2 separate regions of the Homo sapiens genome follow, and region 1 is linked to region 2. The links come from fine-mapping of genetic effects on gene expression. Tissue or cell type: whole blood. Region 2 holds a variant in brackets; the other region holds the start of a gene. All regions are shown on one strand. Distances are from middle to middle.

Region 1 (5,219 bases), 77 kb after region 2:
GCTGTGGCTGTTGCCACGCTCAGAAAGCAGACCTGGTGGCCAAGCAGGGCCCCGCCCTTCTCTGTCTGTGGCTGCTGCACTCAGAAAAGAGGAAAAGGTATACATGGGGAAGCCAGGGCTCCCCCAGCCTGGAAGGCTGACCTGTTGCCAAATTCCAGCTGCCAGGATCCCCCCAACCTCAGCGGGCTAACCGGAAGGGAGGCCACCCTGCCAAATGCTGCAGGTGCTGGGGGCACAGGTCCAAGGCAGGTCCAAGCCTGCCAGCCCCAGACGTGGGAGGAGCCACCTGTGCCATCTGGGCGTGGGGGCAGGGGCTATGGCAGGCACGAGGAAGTTTATTCAATGAAAGTCAAAAATTGTTTTTTACATGACTAAAACCTGTTGCCTAAAACCTGTTTGTTCCTATTTTGAGTTTTGGCTGTATTTTAAAAATGAGTAATATTATAGCTTAATGATAAAAATAGCCATCACTCAAATTGACTGAACATACCTGTGTGCCAGGCACTATTCTTGGCCTTTCATATAAAGTACTTAATCCTCCTAATATCCCAGTGAGGTAGGTGCTATTACTATCCCCATTTTACAGGCGAGAAAACTAAGACTTCCCTTCATTGCATACTTTCACCTTTTTCCTGATTATTTTCCTGCTCTTGGTTCTCTCATCCTAGAAATCCCCCAGAGCTGGAGTCGGGGAAGAGGTGGGTATGGGCCCGGCTTTTCTCCTGCCTCTGCCACCTCTCTTAGGACGTTTCTGAGCTGAGTTTTCTCATCCGTAAGGTGAGGGGTTGGCTGCAATGGCTGACTGGCTGCACTCTGACACCCTGTGGGGAGGGTGCTGACACCAGTACAGACGTCCTGGAGGGCTGTCAGACCACGACATCCTCAGCCTTGTGAGTGGGCATCACCAGTGCTGCTTGCCCAGGATTTAACTTAAAAAGCCCCGGGAGTAAGGGGTCCCTGCATTTACTCCCCGCCTCTCTCCTCCCTCCAACTTGCCTGCTGCACTCCACCTGGGTGGAGGTAGCAGAGGGGGCAGCGCGGGCTTTGGCCTCTTTCTCTCTCTTCCTTCCACAGATCTGATTTTGTTGCTTAACCCCCTTCCTTGTGGTCTGGAAGTCAGGCCATGGCTGGGGTAGTGAATGTGTCCCGGATGTTTGTCCTGCCCAGTCTGTCTGCCTTGCACTTCTGGGAGCCCCAAATTCATTCTTACAGGGAGGAAGGTGGCCATGGGACTCCAGGGGGGAAATGACTGGCCCAGGGTCACATGAGAGCCAAGAGTGGGTTCCCCCATGCTGGACCCCTTGTGTCTGACCCCAAGCCTGAGTCAGGAAAGCCTGGAAAAGTGAGTGGAGGAGGAGGAGCTCGGGGGGCCCTGTTCTCCATTCAGCCCCCACCCAAGAGCTGTGGGCTTCCAGGTGTGTGAGGCTGGGCGCCTGGCACCTGAGCTCCTGCGGTTTGGGTCATAGTCTGAGCCAGAGTGGGAGATTCAGGGTAGGGAGGTGGTGAGGGGCACCCAGGTTTGTCTTATAGGGCACTCTGTTCCCGGCTCTGTGTAATGAGGGGAGGACCCCAAGTCCTTTGGACAGCGCATCCATCTCCTGGCCATAAAGTGTGAGCGTGGAGCTGGGCTGATTTGGGGGTGTCCGGAAGAAGGAAATGAAAGGGACATTTAATGAGGTCCTAGTACGTGCCAAGCATTTTCACACACCTACATTTGATTCAATTTCCACTACAAGTGGACACTGTTATACCTATTTTACAGACACAGAAACTGAGGCTCAGAGAGGTGCCTGGAGACGGAAAAGGGTGGGGAGCGAATCTTTCTGGCGCGCCCTCTGTGCCTCAGTCACCGTGCCAGACGCCTGCCCGCGTTCCCTATCGAAATCCCCCCGCCTCGCCAGCGAGGAAGGCGCGATCGTCCCCGGAACACAGACGGGAGACCGGAGGCTCGGGGACCGCCGGACGACCGCGGCCGGGCGGCCCCTCACACCACCCGGGCGGCTCCCCCGACGGCGCGCGGCGCTCACCTCCAGGCGGTCGATGCGGTCCCGCAGGGCGCGCACGGCGTCCTCCAGCTCCAGAATGAGCGCAGGCGAGTCCCAGGGCCCGTCGGCCATGGTGTCGCGGCGGGGCCCGGCGCCCTGGAGGCCGCGCGGCAGGCCGCTCTCGCAGCGGCCCAGCTTGCCGGTGAGCTCACGGATGGTGTCCTGGTCGGCGCGGATGCGCGCCTCCTGCTGCAGCGCCGTCTGGCGCAGCTGCTCGGCCGTGCTCTGCAGCAGCAGCAGCTCTTCGCGCTCGCCCGGCGCAGCGCCCGCCGCGTCCCCCTGCTGGGCCCCCGACGGGCAGGCAGCAGCCAGCGGCGTGCACAGGAAGCGGCTGAACAGGGGCCCGGGCGGCAGCGGGTGCGCGCTGGCCGCGGGTGCCCCGGGCAGCGCGGGGGGCCCGGCTGAACCGCCCGCGCCGTGCAGCGCGCTCAGGCTCCGCTGCGGGCCCGGGGACGCGGCGGCGCCCGAGGCGACCGAAGCATTGTCGGCGCCGCCGGGCAGCGCCCGCGCCGGGCTGGCCGCCAGGGGCACGCTGGCGATGATGCAGATGACGGCACCGAGGAACGCCAGCATGCCCGCGGCCAGCAGCACGGCCAGGAACTTCAGCGTGAGGCGGGCGGCGGGGGCGCCCGAGGCCCCCGGCAGGCGCGGCGGCGGGGTCGGGGCGCGGAGCCCGGGCGCGCTGGGCCGAGCGGGGCAGGCGCGGGAGCCGGAGCCGGAGCCGGAGCCGGAGCCGGAGCTGGAGCTGTCGCCGCGGCCGCTGCTGCCGCCGCTCTGAGCCCGGGCGGCGGGAGGAGGAGAAGACGGCAGGCGGCGGGGAGGGGGAGCGGGCGCGGCGGCCCCGCCCCACTCGCTTCCCCGGGCCGGCCCTGGCCCCGGCCCAGCCCCGCACCCGTTCAGTGCCGGGCGCCCGGCTGGGGGCGCCGCCGGGGATGCGGCGAGGAGCGAGGGCAGCGCCTGGGACCTTATCTCGCCGCGGTCACAGCGCAGGGGCCGGCGACCCGAGGGCCGCGCGGCGGGGCTCCTGGGTGACCCCCATCCCAGCCCTCCCGTGCTCGGGCCCCCTCCCCAAGCCGGTTATGTTCACATCCACCCGGGAGGGAGCTTTCTTCCGGGTGGGGCTGTGCACTGGGCGCGCCACAAGCTCGGTCGCAATTGAGCCTTGCCGTGGACAGGCTCACAATAGAAATGAGGAAACTGAGACACCTGAGGTCAGGCCTCTGTCCAAGGTCACCGGGTGGCTGCGTTGGAGCCGCCTGCGAGCTTAGGCACGTTTCACCGGACCAGACTGTGGATGGGGCTGGAGTGGGAGCGGTTAGAGGTGGAGAAGAGGCCAGTGTTGGGGGTTGGGGGGAGGCTCGGATTTTGACCTAACTTCTGTTTATACTGTGGCCACCTGCCCGTCACCCCCACCTCCAACCTTCTGAAGGAGCAGAGTTCACTCCCCGCCACCCTCATTACAGAATCTTCCTGTGATCTCAGAGGATGATGGAAATTCTCTCCTCTGAATCCTTGGGGGCTTAGAGCCTCACAGGTCCAGAGAAACCCCCCACCCCCACTGCAGTCTGCCTTCGTTGGCAAGCGGTGCCACGTGCCTGGTGGGCATGTGGACCAGGCCCAGAAGGAACAGCAGGAATGGGAGTGGGCTGTGCTGTGGGGGTGGCAGAGGAGCGTTTTACTTTCTTCTGTCAAAAATGTCTATATATATTTTGTTGAAAATTAACTTTGCAATTAAAAACTTAAAAACAATCCTACTATCCTCCACACTTTATCCCCAGCTCCAATTTTCCATGAGGTCTTTCCTGACCAATACGGATTCCCAGGGCTGGAAGGGCCTTGGGAGGGCTGTGGTTATTCCCAGCTCTGTCTCCCTTCCAAGCCTGCATTTTTGACTTGAAGGGAAAGCGCAAACCAGGATCTCTGGACCACCACGGCTACCACTGTGGTTTCGAGTGTACTTCACATAGCGCTGGTGGTGGGGAGAGACCGGAATGTTTCCCAGGAAGCCACAACCCTGGGGGACGCTCTCCAGCCACGGGGATTTTGTCCAGTGTTCCCAGGCACACGTGCTCCACCTCCCTCTCTCCACACATGTTAGGATGATGTCCACCCTGTTCACCCATCTCTAGGAGCCAGGGATTTTCATCCATACCTGAGTTGTGAAAGAGGAGAGAAGCAAACACAAGCGCTGTATGCCAGGAACCTGAGTGCTGTGTGTGCGTGGATGTGTGCTGGTGCTCACTGAAGTCGTAACCTCAAAACCCAGGGCAGGCAGCTGGGCTTGGAGGAAGCATCTCATGGACAGAGAGATGGGCTGGGCTCTTGGAAGGCAAAGGCCAGCGGTAGGCCCTGCTAAAGTCCTGGGGATGCATGAGACATCGGGACTCCTGGTACATCTACACGTGTGCCGTGAAGACAGAAACACGGAGATAGCATCCCCAGGAGAAACTGTCATAGGAAGTCCAGGGAAGGACAGGAGATGCCAAGAGAGAGGGCTGCTGCCAAGAGCAGCAGAGCCACTGTGACTTGGGCACCAAATGGTGCCACCTTTACCTGAGCTGCCCCCTGAGACTTTGGGGACAGTTTGGATAAATGGGTCCAGAGGCTGGAGTCAAATTGTGTTTAAACTGGTCTGTTGATCTCCTAGAATGACTTTATTTTTTATTTTATTTTATTTTTGAGACAGAGTCTTGCTCTGTCACCCAGGCTGCAGTGCGGTGGCGTGATCTCGGCTCACTGGAACCTCTGCCTTGCGGGTTCAAGCAATTCTCCTGCCTCAGTCTCCCAAGTAGCTGGGACTACAGGTGCACGCCACCACGCCCAGCTAATTTTTGTATTTTTAGTAGAGATGGAGTTTCAATATGTTGGCCAGGCTGGTCTTGAACTCCTGACCTCAGGTGATCCACCTGCCTCGGCCTCCCAAAGTGCTGGGATTACAGGCGTGAGCCATGGCGCCCAGCCTCTCCCTTCTTCCTTGGCCCATCTCTATCCCCAGCATTCAGCATGAAGCCTGCCCAGGGAAGCTTCTCGGTGAATGTTTGCTGAACTAGTTCCTAATGCCACTGCTGGAGGCAGAGGAAGGAGGAGAGGACAGAGAAGTCCCAAAACTCGTCTCTCCTGGGTCCTGGGAGAGACCCCCCTTAATCCTAACACAGGATTCCTCAAGGGATGGGC
Region 2 (5,219 bases):
GGCCTCAGCCTCAGTGACCCTCTGCCCTGGTGAGAACTAGAAGGGGACTGTCCCTGCAGCAGGATGGCCACCCCGACCCCACCAGCCATGCCTCAGGTGTGGGAGTGGAACCTCGTCCACAGAAGCTGCCCCTTATGCGTTACAGGACCTCATCAGCCACCCACCTCTCAGAGGACAAGAGTGTTTGTGGGGTTACTACGAAGGTTAAATGAAATTATTTTTATTTCAAATGATTTTTAAAAAATCATTTAAAATATTATGACTTGGCTGCGTGTGGTGGCTCATGCCTGTAATCCCACCACTTTGGGAGGTCAAGGTGGGCAGATCACTTGAGGTCAGGAGTTCGAGACCAGCCTGGCCAACATGGTGAAACCCCATCTCTACTAAAAGTACAAAAATTAGCCGGGCGTGGCGGTGGGCGACTGTAATCCAGCTACTCGGGAGGCTGAGGCATGAGAATCACTTGAACCCAGGAGGTGCAGGTTGCAGTGAGCCGAGATCATGCCACTGCACTCCAGCCTGGGCGACAGAGCAAGATTGTGTCTGAAACATAAATAAATAAAATAAAATAAAATAAAATAAAATAAAATAAAATAAAATAAAATAGTATGACTCAATGAATAATCTGTGCCGCACATTTTAGCATCAAGAAGGGGTGGGGCTGAGTATCCCTGGGCCCTCCCCAGGCCTAAGACTCTGAGTCTGTGTCTAAAGTCCTGGGAACCTCACTTGTGGTGGTTCATAGACATCACCAGGTCATGGACGGTGACAGAGGACAGAACACCCCAGGGGAGGCTCTCACCTGCTCTCTCAGCGCTCAGGAGAGACGAAGAGGGGTTTCTGTTCACCTCCAGACACAGGTGCACACACACCCCACACAGACACATACAGAGATACACAAAGACATAGACACACATACATTAGAGACACACAGACACACTTGGATACATCGAAACACACACACACACAGACTCCTGAGGAGCTCTGCTAGGCCTTGGGACCTTGAAGGTTCCTGGAGAAAAGGTAGGAAAGGGGCTCCCCCAGGCCACTTGGGGTAACAGTGGGGGGCTCACCATGTAGCCCTTGCAGCCACTGTCACCCTGGAAGTGCTCAGATTGGGAAAGGCTCTGTCAACCTGGGGAAGGGGCCACAGGGGACTCCAGTGGGGCTCAGTGGGGCTCAGGGGCCACCCAATGAGCTGGGAGTCAGTAGCCCCTGCTCTCATCCAGTGCTCTAGGACAGGCTACAGGTAGGTGGGCTGGTTGCTTGCCAGCCATTCTGACCAACTACTCAAAGCCCAAACCTCTCTGAGCCTCACTGGCCCACAGGTAGAATGAGGAGGTGGCCAGACAGCAGTTTGCCAGAATGTTCCCTAAGATCTGAGGACAGGATCCCTGCCGACTCCCCCTACTTCGACTAGAGCTGTTCTGCTCTGGTTGACACACTGGGGTTCCCTGGGCAAATTGATTTGAAAAAAGGGATTCTGCTGCCACAGAAAAAACAACAACAACAAAAAAAAGACAACTGGCCTGGCCAGCTGCCCTGTGACTCACCCTGGCTTGGCGCCTGCCACCTGTATCCAGGATGAGGATGAGCAGCGGGAATCCTTCCGACCCAGGCACAGCAGGCGAGTCTGTCTCCCCCTAGGGGCAGCTGGGAGAGTCATGGGCATAGCTTGGCTGAGGAGCTCCGGTGGACCCGGGCCCACCCCAGTCTTGGGGCAGTGGTTGGCCAGGCTGGGCCCAGGGAAGGGGGATTGATGTCTCATAGGCTCGGGTCTCGTGGAAAGGCCGAAGGGCTGTCAGCAGACATGGCCCCATGTGCACCCTGAACTCAGGGAAGGATGTTGGCTCAGTCCATATTCCTCTCTGGGCCTCTGTTCTCCAAGAGAAGGGCATGGCCATTGACTGCTTTCATTATCTTGTGCCAGGCATGGGGTTCCCAGTGAGTGAGACCCCGCAGGGCTGTCCTCTGGTGCAGAGAAGAGGGATTTGTGGGGTCACACCAGGACTCACATAATCACGTAATGTCCTTATAGTCTCTTTAGTCCTGCTTCAGGTCGCTCCTCTTTTTTTTCTTTTTTTTTTTTTTTTGAGATGGAGTTTCGCTCTTGTTGCCCAGGCTGGAGTGCAATGGCGCGATCTTCGCTCACCGAAACCTCTGCCTCCCGGGTTCAAGCCATTCTCCTGCCTTAGCCTCCTGAGTAGCTGGGATGACAGGCATGTGCCACCACGCCTGGCTAATTTTGTATTTTTAGTAGAGGAGGGGTTTCTCCATGTTGGTCAGGCTGGTCTTGAACTCCCGACCTCAGGTGATCCACCTGCCTGGAACACTCCCAAACATAGCTAGCTGCATGGCCCATTCCCTCCCTGGCCCTCTGCTCCGGAGTCCCACTGACGTCAGGATACCCTGGCAGAGGGCAGGGGCACTCATGCTAGGCCAGGGATGGCCACTGCTGGTCCTGGGTGGAGGGGCCACCGCGGCACGCCTTCCACAGCCCCAGGGACACCTTCCAGACAGACCATGGGCGCAGCTTCACCTCCCGGGGCTTTCGCTCCTTTACCTGCTAAAAGTGGGGTAGTGACGTCTGCCTTGAGGGGCTGTGGATAGGCCACAGTGAGAACATGGCTCAGGGCTGTGCACATGCCCACCTCCCTTCCTCCCCTGGCTTCCTTC[C/T]CCAAACAGCCCACAGGCAGGCCATTCTACAGTTGGGGGAAATGGGCCTGGATCCCTCAAGAACACGAGGCTTTGAGCCTGCTCTGGACTTACTTGTCTGCTTGGCCACATTAGCTGTATGATCCTGGCAGCGCACCTGGCCGCTGTTTCCCCGCCCTGCCTCCTCAGGTGCACCCACAGCTGTACGCGGTTCTAGAGGGACGCTCCTGGGAGGGGGTTGTTTTTTGAGGAGGAGGGGGCGGTACGGAGCAGGCCAGGGTCCCTTTTCAGGGTGACTGTAGGCTTGCAGGGTGGGGTGGACTCTGTTCTATAGGTGACACTCCCAGCCACAAAAAGGATGCCAAGAGGGGCTGGCCCTGCCTGCATTTTCCCTAAACGCAGATGCTGGGGCCTGTGCATCCTACAGCGGGTAGGGAGCCCCCTTCCCCTGCAGGGAGCTCAGAACTGCCCCACTTTAGGCAAACCTAAGTGAAGAATCCGAAGATGCTGTGGAGGGAATGTTGGAGTGTTCCCCAGAGCTTCCCCATCCAATTCCATTATCTTATCCCCTGGGGGAAGAGGATGAACCAGTCACTCCCACGAGCTCCCAGAGAGGCACCCAGCATGGACAGCAGCACTGGGGCAATGAGATTTGGGCACCCAGGTGGGAGCTCTTGGAATAACCTTCTGAAAGGAGGGGCCTCGGAGTGTGGAGGCAAGAGCAGTGGGAGGAAGAGGTGGGTGATGATTGCCAATGGGACCACCAGGTCCCAGGTGTCTCCCTGGACAGGACCTGAGCACCTTCCCCTCTGCCCTCAGGGGCCCTGTGAGACCGGCAATACTGAGCGGCAACATGGGGTGAGCTCGGAGTGGGAAGAGGAGGAGCTGAAGCCCGCAGGCCTGCAGGTGCAGCGAGGTGCGGACCTGCCTGCTCTGAGGTGGCTGCTCTAGGACCTACACAGGTAGGGCATGCAGCAGGTGCTCAATAAATATTTGTGGCTGGGCGCAGTGGCGAGAAGGTGGGGGAGCCTCCACCTCAGCTGCCCTAGTCAAGAAGCCTTGGACTGGCTGGATGCGATGGCTAATGCCGGTAATCCCAGCACTTTGGGAGGCTGAGGTGGGTGGATCACCTGAGGTCAGAAGTTTGAGACCAGCCTGGTCAACATGGTGAAACCCCATTAGTATTAAAAATGCAAAAATTAGTCGGGTATGGTGGCAGGTGCCTGTAATCCCAGCTACTAGGGAGGCTGAGGCAGGAGAATCGCTTGAACCTGGGAGGGGGAGGTTGCAATGAGCTGATCACGCCACTGCACCCTGGCCTGGGTGACAGAGCAAGACTTTGTCTCAAGAAAATAAATAAATAAATAAATAAATAAATAAATAAATAATTAATTAATAAATATTTGTGACTGAAGAGCAGAAGGAAGTCAGGCCTGACTCGAAGCCACCACACCTTTTCTCACTTGGGCCCAATGAGTGTGAAGAGGCTGAGCCTCAGAGAAGGGTGAGGTGAGCCCCCCAGCACCCTCCCAGCAGGCCCCCTCAACTGCAGTCCTCCCAGTGTCTCCCCCAAGTCCTCCCAGGGCTTGGCCAGCCCTCCCAGTGTCCTCCCAGCGCCCCGTTGATGAGCCACGTTATGCCCACATGTGGCCATGAGAGGTCGCCCTGCGCCGCCGGCTGCAGCGAGACTGCGTGGTGGAGGAAGGAGCTCATCTTGGAGAAATAGCAGGATGCGGCCAGGGCAGGATTGGAGGATTGTATTATCCAGAGGGGCAGGGGTGCAGGGATTCCCAACGTTCTGCTGAACAGTGCACCGTAAAGGGGTCCCTTGGGGCATAGACAAGAGATGGGCCCAGGGAGGGGGCGGCTGGCCCCAGAGACACACAGCAAGCCCATGGCAGAGCCAGAGGGTCCCCCGACCCAGGCCCTCACCTCCTGGGCTTGAAGAGGGCCTGCCTGTGTTTGGGGCATGTCACAGTCAGCCTCAGTTGGGTACCCAAGACTTCTGGACTGCAAGGTGGAGATGAGGTCAGAGAGGACAGGGCTGGGGACAGGGAGCGTGGGCTGGGGGCTGAGGGGGGAATTGGCTGACCCGAGGCCACAGTATCCTCCCTCACTGGAGGTCCTGCAGGTCATGCTGGTCACCCCTGTTGATGTGGAAGTGGAGCTGGGTGGGGCCTGGCTTGGTGGCTCTGCCAACTTGGTTTGGACCTCACTGATCCTGGGTCCCCAGACTTGAGGATTAGAGCTGGGCCCTGCTGAGAGGTGGTGGGACCAGGCCATGCTGGGCCTCGCAGGTCAGGTTGAAGCATTGGGTTTTGTCCAGGGAAGTGGATAAACTGTTGGCTGGGAGGTTAGGCCACGCTAACCAGCATGGTCCCTCTGGTTATCATCAGGCAAGAAGTAAGTGGGAGCTGACTTAGGAGGCTGCTGCTCTCCGTGCCTATAGCATAGCTTGAGGCCCAGCTCCATCCCTTACTGGCAGAGCAGGTTACCGGCCCTCAGACCTGGAAGAAGGGGCCTGTGTTCCTCAGGCCTGGCCCTGTGGCATCCCTCTCCTGCAG

Evidence for each region. PIP is the estimated chance that this variant, and not a neighbour inherited with it, causes the effect.
Region 1: NPTXR starts here. The variant in region 2 is fine-mapped to the expression of NPTXR in whole blood (TOPMed, PIP above 0.99).

What each region holds. Positions count from the first base shown.
Region 1 is chr22:38,841,208-38,846,426 of GRCh38, forward strand. NPTXR (neuronal pentraxin receptor) reads right to left here and starts at 2,821. Exons shown (of 5, transcript NM_014293.4): 1 at 2,028-2,821. The coding sequence starts at 2,651. RefSeq lists a silencer at 2,340-2,409.
Region 2 is chr22:38,764,681-38,769,899 of GRCh38, forward strand. No RefSeq gene overlaps it. Among named protein-coding and RNA genes, the nearest start is that of SUN2, 11 kb to the left of the region's middle. The variant C/T (reference allele first, on the strand shown) is at 2,677.